Homo sapiens: one gene and its partner. The protein of the gene in region 2 purifies or fractionates together with the protein of the main gene of each other region. This does not show direct contact. Each region holds a gene or a part of one and is shown on either strand. Other genes may lie near its edges.

Region 1 (3,752 bases), on a different chromosome or scaffold from region 2:
GGAGAATAGATTGAACCCGGGAGGCGGAGGTTGCAGGGAGGCAGAGGTTGCAGTGAGCCGAGATCGCGCCACAGCACTCCAGCCTGGGCGACAGTGCAAGACTCCACCCTCCAAAAAAAAAAAAAGTAAAATAAATAAATACATAAATAGGCTGGGCGCGGTGGCTCATGACTATAATCCCAGCACTTTGGGAGGCCAAGGGGGGTGGATCACCTGAGACTCCGTCTCAAAAAAAAAAACAAAAACAAACAAACAAAAAACCTAGAAGATCATTAACTACTGGAATCATGGCCATTCTCTCAATACATTCTACTGCACGTGGCCCGAGAGCCTTTGCTCCGGCTATTTTTTCTAGCGCAGTGCCCTTCTACACATTAGCAATCCAGTCCCGCCATACGCCAGGCCCATGTGGGGACCTCCGCGATGGCCAAGCCCTGGGCCTGCCAGCGCATGGCTCTACCTTCAAGGCAGGTGGCCCGGAGATCTGCGTCCAGCCCACCCTGGATAATGGCGAAGAGGTTCTGCTTGTCCGGCCGCTGATGGGCTGCAATGCACCGGTCCAGCCAGCGGATTGACCTGCAACAGGGCCCCAGTCACAAGCCCCAGGGGCCTGGTGAGGGGGTAGGAGACAAGGCTACAGGGACCAGGATCCCCTCCCACCACATATCCCACACATGCACACAGCATATACACACCTGTACATGGCCTCCTCCACACGTGGCCCAGTCACAGTACTGCTAACCACGTCGTCCAGCTGCATGATGATGTCCGAGCCTGATGGTGAGATGGGGGCAACATCACTGGGAAAGCCCGCAATGCTTGGGGAAAGCCTGCCGTCACATGGGGACAAGTTGGACTTCCCCAAGAGCATCCCCCCATCCCCCGTCTTGCTAACTCCCACGTGACTTTCCCGGTCTGTTTATACAGCAGCCAGAAGGAGCTTTACAGAATGTGCCTTTGATCCTGCCTCTCCCCAGCTTAAAATCCTATCCTGTTACACAAAATAAAATCCTAAAATATACAAAGGGATCCCTTGCTATGTGGCGTGCCACAGCAAGACCGGGAAACCAAACGTCCATCAGCAGGGCTCTGCTGACTGGGCGCAGTGACTACGCCTGTAATCCCAGCACTTGGGGACGCCGAGGCAGGCAGGTCATCTGAGGTCAGGAGTTCAAGACCAGCCTCGCCAACATGGTGAAACCCCATCTCTCCTAAAAACACAAAAATTAGCCAGGTATGATGGCACGTGCCTGTATTCCCAGCTGCTTGGAAGGCAGAGACAGGAGAATAGCTTGAATCTGGGAGACAGAGGTAGCAGTGAGCCAAGATTGTGCCACTGCACTCCAGCCTGGATGACAGAGCAAGGCTGTGTTAAAAAAAAAAAAAAAAGGTTAAAAAAAAAAAAACAGGCGCGATGGCTCACGCTTGTCATCTCAGCACTTTGGAAGGCCAACCCAGGTGGATCATTTGAGGTCAGGAGTTCGAGACCAGCCTGGCCAAGGTGGTGAAACCCCGTCTCTACTAAAAATACAAAAATTAGCCGGGCGTGGTGGTATATTCCTGTAATCCCAGCTACTCAAGAGGCTGAGGCAGGAGAATCGCTTGAACCCGGAAGACGGAGGTTGCGGTGAGCTAAGATTGCACCACTGTACTCCAGCCAAGGCGACAGAGCGAGACACCGTCTCAAAAACAAAACAAAAGTGCTAAGATTATAGGCATGAGCCACGGTGCACAGCATAGTGGTTTAGTGGCATAAAATGAAACTTGATGACCTATAATCCAAACACTTTGGAAGGCCCAGGCGGAAGGATCACTAGAGCCCAGGAGTTCGAGACCACCCTGGGCAACACAGAGAGACCCCATCTCCATTATTAAGAAAATAAATAGATGAAAACAATTTAAAATAAAAAAGAACAGGCCACAGCCGGGCGCAGTGGCTCACGCCTGTAATCCCAGCACTTTGGGAGGCCAAGGCGTGTGGATCACCAGGTCAGGAGATTGACACCATCCTGGCGAACACAGTGAAACCCTGTCTCTGCTAAAAATACAAAAAATTAGCCGGGCGTGGTGGCGGTCACCTGTAGTCCCAGCTACTCGGGAACTGAGGCAGGAGAATGGTGTGCACCCGGGAGGTGAAGCTTGCAGTGAGCCGAGATCGCACCACTACACTCCAGCCTGAGTGACAGAGCGAGACTCTGTCTCCACAAAAAAAAAAAAAAAAAAAAAAAAAAAAAAGAACAGGCCAGGCCTGGTGGCTTGCGCCTGTAACCCCAGCACTTTGGGAGGCCAAAGCAGGTCAATCACTTGAGATCGGGAGTTCAAGACCACCCTGGCCAATATGGTGAAACCCTGTCTCTACAACAAATACAAAAATTAGCCCGGCATGGTGGCATGCACCTGAAGTCCCAGCTACTTGGGAGGCTGAGGCAGGAGAATCGCTTGAACCCAGGAAGCAAAGGTTGCAGTGAGCCGAGATTGCACCACAGTACTCCAGCCCGGGTGACAGAGCGAGATTGTGTCTCAAAAAAGAAAAAAAGGGGCAGGCGTGGTGACTCACGCCTGTAGTCCCAGCACTTTGGGAGGCCGAGACGGGTGGATCACCTTAGGTCAGGAGTTCGAGACCGGCCTGGCCAACATGGTGAAACCCCGTCTCTACTAAAAATATAAAAACTAGCCAGGTGTGGTGATGGGCACCTGTAATCCCAGCTACTCGGGAGGCTGCAGCAGGAGAAGTGCTTGAACCCAGAAGACAGAGGTTGCAGTAAGCCAACACAGTGCCACTGCACTCCAGCCTTGGTCAAAGAGTGAGACTCCTTCTCAAAAAAGAAAAAAAAAAAGAAAAGACGAAAAAATAAATATGGGGCTGGGTGCGGTGGCTCACGCCTGTAATCCCAGCCCTTTGGGAGGCTGAGGCAGGTGGACCACCTGAAGTCAGGAGTTCAAGACCAGCCTGACCAACAAGGTGAAACCCCGTCTCTACTAAAAGTACAAAAATTACCAGGCGTGGTGGCAGGCACCTGTAGTCCCAGCTGCTGGGGAGGCTGAGGCAGGAGAATAGCTTAAACCCGGGCAGCAGAGGTTGCAGTGAGCCAAGATCGAGCCACTGCACTCCAGCCTAGGTGACAGAGCGAGATTCCACATCAAAAAAAAAAAAAAAAATTACGACATTCATTAAAAAGCTAGAACTTTAGCTGGGCATGGTGGCTCACACCTGTAATGCCAGCACTTTGGGAGGCTGAGGCAGGCGGATCACCTGAGGTCGGGAGTTCAAGACCAGCCTGACCAACATGGAGAAACCCCGTCTCTACCAAAAATACAAAATTAGCCGGGCATGGTGGCGCATGCCTGTCATCCCAGCTACTCGGGAGGCTGAGGCAGGAGAATCGCTTGAACCCAGGAGGCAGAGGTTGCTGTGAGCCGAGATTGCGCCATTGCACTCCAGCCTGGGCAACAAGAGCGAAACTCGGTTTCAAAAAAAAAGAGGCCGGGTGCGGTGGCTCACGCCTGTAATCCCAGCACTTTGGAAGGCCGAGATGGGCGAATCACGAGGTCAGGAGATCGAGACCATCCTGGCTAACACGATGAAACCCCGTCTCTAGTAAAAGTACAAAAAAATTAGCTGGGCGTAATGGCGGGTGCCTGTAGTCCCAGCTACTCCGGAGGCTGAGGCAGGAGAATGGCATGAACCCAGGAGGCGGAGCTTGCAGTGAGCCGAGATCGCGCCACCGCACTCCAGCCTGGGAGACTAAGCA
Region 2 (3,752 bases):
ACAGGAGTAGACAGGATATGTGCTTGTTGCCCAGCTCTCTGCCCCCTAGTGCCCAACGAAATTGCCAGTCAGGCACAATAATAATTGTATACATTTACAGAAACTTTATTACATACCAGTATGTATTTTATGTACATAAGCAACTCACTAGCCAGTCTTAAAGTATTCTCTTTTTTATCTAGCTCAGCAGCATCAAATAATGTGCCCATGTCCGAGTCCCCAAGCTAGTAGAGGATGAGCCGTGAATTTAAATTCCCTCTGTATTACCCTTCTTCATTTAATCCCTCAGTGTGCGTGTGTGTATTGGTCCAGATTCTAAGCCAGTAATATGATTTCCAAACACTAAGACTTTAGGTGATATTGGTAAAAGTTTTTACGTTCTAAAATGTATTTTAAGTGCAGTAACTAGCATTAGTAGTAAACCTATTATTTCAGAAATATTATTGCTTCAGGTAAACACATTATTACTCCAACTTCACGAGGCTGTCATGAAAAATGTGTTTCTGAAAGAGCTTCAGCACACCGCCTGGCCCTCAATGAGCAATCCTTAAGTGGGAGGTAGGCCGGGCTCAGTGGCTCGCGCCTGTAATCTCAGCACCTTGAGAGGCAGAGACGGGAGGATCGCTTGAGTGTAGGGTTTAGGACTACCCTGGGCCAAACAGTGAGACCCCTTATCTACAATTTACAAAACTTAGCCGAGAGTGGTGGCGCGCACTCATAGTCCCAGCTACTCTGGAGGCTGAGACAGGAGAAGTCGAGGCTTCCCTGAGCTATCATCACGCCACTGCACTCCAGCCTCGGCAACAGAGCGAGACCCTGTCTCACAAAAATAAAAATAAAAGTAATGGGAGCTACCGTGGTTACTGATGGCAAGAAAAGGTGCAAGCACTTCAAGCACAAAACCGATAGCACCGAAGTCTGCGAGCGTCTCAGGACTAGGGACGGAAACGCCGGCGAGGCCACGCCCCTACAGCCGTCACGCCGACGACCCGAGGCGCGCATGCCCATACCAGCAGCCATCCCTCCACCCTTCCCTCCTCCCGCAAGGCCTGGCAGCCGGCCCGCCCGCCCACCCCGGGACCGGTACCTTTTCTGGCCCATACATGTCGTCGCCGTATTCGTTGAGGAGGCTGTAGGCCTCCTCCACGCACTTGCGCTCGTTCATATTGCAGGTGATGAGGATGCCCTGTAGCCCGGGCTCTAGCTGACGGGGCCCGCCAGCGTCGCAGCGCCGAGCGCGCTTGGCCAGCACATACTGAGCCTTGCCTTTGCGCTTCCCGCCGCCAGGCTGAGTAGTCTGCTGGGCAGGGGCCGCCATGGTGTGCGCAAACTGAGAGGAAAGAGAAACGTTTCTCCGCTGCTGTTGGCGTCCTCGTCTATCGCCGGCGCGAACTGGTGACGTCGGATATGAGCGACGGCCTCCCCTAGCCGGCCTCGAAGCCTCATTCCGTGCTGCGCCAGGTCCTAAGGCCGGTCTGCAATCGTGAAAGGGGTGGAGTGATACCCGCCCAAGCCCCGCCTCCTGCCCCGCCTCCCGACTGCAACCTGAATCCAGTAGAGGCAGCATAGCAGCCATTCTGGAAGTGGTGTCGGTGGCTCCTCAAGCCCTTGAAGCTGGCTCCAGCCATATAGCTTCTTCCACCCAACCTTGGTACCTGTTCCTCCAGCCTTCCCTATAATTCTGCCAGCTACTGTGGAGGAAAAGTTAAATATTAAATTTGAACTCAATTGAACGTGGACACAATGGTCAAGTCCCGTAACAGGTTGCATGAGCCCCTTGAGGCATTCATTCATCCAGCACTGTTACAGATAACTCTGTACCTGTACTTGAGTTATTGAAAAACAGACAATCACAGAAACAAGTTGACCTTTATGTGTTCCTTGAGCCCAGTCGAGAAGGGCCCTCGTGACTGGGCCTCATGCCAATCAACGCATTACAAAAAGAGCCAGGGTCGGCCGGGCACGGTGGCTCACGCCTGTAATCCCAGCACTTTGGGAGGCCAAGGCAGGCAGATCACGAGGTCAGGAGATGGAGACCATCCTGACCAACATCTCTACTAAAATGCAAAAAATTAGCCAGGCGTGGTGGCGCGCACCTGTAGTCCCAACTACTCGGGAGGCTGAGGCAGGGGAATCACTCGAACTCGGGAAGCGGCGGTTGCAGTAAGCCGAGATCGTGCCATTGCACTCCAGCCTGGCAACAAAGCGAGGCTCTGTCTCAAAAAAAAAAAAAAAATGAGCCAGGGTCCCAGGCCACACGGAAGCTTCTTGAGACCCCTCCTCCTCTGTGCACGGACAAGTGGCTGACTCTGGAGCCCAGGCTGTTGCTTCCCGGTCTGGTGATGAATCCAACATAGTCTGGTGCGTGTAAATATATATATATATATATATATTTTTTTTTTTTCCCTTCTCCCCTTCCCATTGCAATTTGCTTACTATATCATTTGCTTATTATATCTGCATTGCCATTTACGTGGGATAAAGGTTGTTTACCCCCAAAGGTATTGTATGTTTGTCTATTTTTTTTTTTTTTTTTTGAGATGGAGTCTCGCTCTGTCGCCCAGGCTGGAGTGCAGTGGTGCGATCTGGGCTCACTGCAAGCTCCGCCTCCCAGGTTCACCCCATTCTCCTGCCTCCCTCCCGAGTAGCTGGGACTACAGGCGCCCGCCACCACGCCCGGCTAATATTTTTTATTTTTAGTAGAGACGGGGTTTTACCGTGTCAGTCAGGATGGTCTCAATCTCCTGACCTCGTGATCCACCCGCCTCGGCCTCCCAAAGTGCTGAGATTACAGGCGTGAGCCACCGCGCCTGGCCGTATTTTGTCTTGTTTTTTCCCCTCGCGCATTTCCCACATAGAACAGTTACTCAAAAGGCTTCCAGTAAATTCCATTTCAGCCTCAATTTTCCAGGCTATGTTTCTATTTCACTTAAAACCAAGGATGTTGGCTGGTGTTGTTTCATGCTGCTTTCGTTGCGGCCTTTTATCCATAGTCTTGGCAACTTATCATGTTACTGTCTTTTTAAAAATCATTGAAGATGCCACTTTTGAAGAATGTGTTTAAAAAACAAGTGCTTCTCATACTACTCTTCAGGTACAAACCTCTTAGCAGATTTGAGTTCCTACAAAGCCCTAAAAGATGTAATCTGATATTTTGAAAGGGACACCGAATTCACAGTCAATAAACCCTAGGTTCTAACCCCAGATCTACCACTATGTCCAAAAATTTTATCATCTTATTGTTTGCTTTTACCTGTGTATTCAATACAGCATTTAATTTTCAGAATTTCTTTGGTGGACACTGCACAGCAGAGATTTCTAGAAGTCCTCAGTTGTTTGTGAAGAGCAGTGTCATGACACTGGCATTGGCCTTCCCCCAAATCTCTCTCTCTTCTGCTGGCTGGGTTTCAGTTGCCCACACTCTGCCACCTGTCCTTAGGATATCAAATATTAGCATACAGATAACAAGTTAAAATATATATATTTCAAGTCCCAAGCATATTTGAGTACTATATGGAGGCAAACTTGAAAAACAAAAACTCAGTTTTGTTAAAATATGTGAGGAGGCAGCTTTAGGCTAAATTTAAGTTTGGCCTAAATCAAGCTTGTCCAACCTGTTGGCCCACAGTCAACATGTGGCCCAGGACAGCTTTGAAATTCAACCGGCCCAACACAAATTAATAAACTTTCTTAAAACACTCTGAGGTTTTTCTGCAATTAAAAAAAATTCATCTGCTATTGTTAGCATTAGT

Evidence for each region. Proteins that work in one complex are often made in the same cells at the same time.
Region 1: the proteins of THUMPD1 (region 2) and QTRT1 purify together in Homo sapiens (affinity purification with mass spectrometry; 3 studies listed by BioGRID and IntAct, with this or other methods). This does not show direct contact.

Annotation. Positions count from the first base shown.
Region 1 is NC_000019.10:10,704,324-10,708,075, reverse strand, and holds part of QTRT1 (queuine tRNA-ribosyltransferase catalytic subunit 1), read right to left. Parts: intron 775-3,752; coding exon 696-774; intron 577-695; coding exon 461-576; intron 1-460.
Region 2 is NC_000016.10:20,740,422-20,744,173, forward strand, and holds the start of THUMPD1 (THUMP domain-containing protein 1), read right to left. Parts: upstream 1,398-3,752; 5' UTR 1,319-1,397; coding exon 1,088-1,318; intron 1-1,087. UniProt on the Homo sapiens protein: Functions as a tRNA-binding adapter to mediate NAT10-dependent tRNA acetylation modifying cytidine to N4-acetylcytidine (ac4C).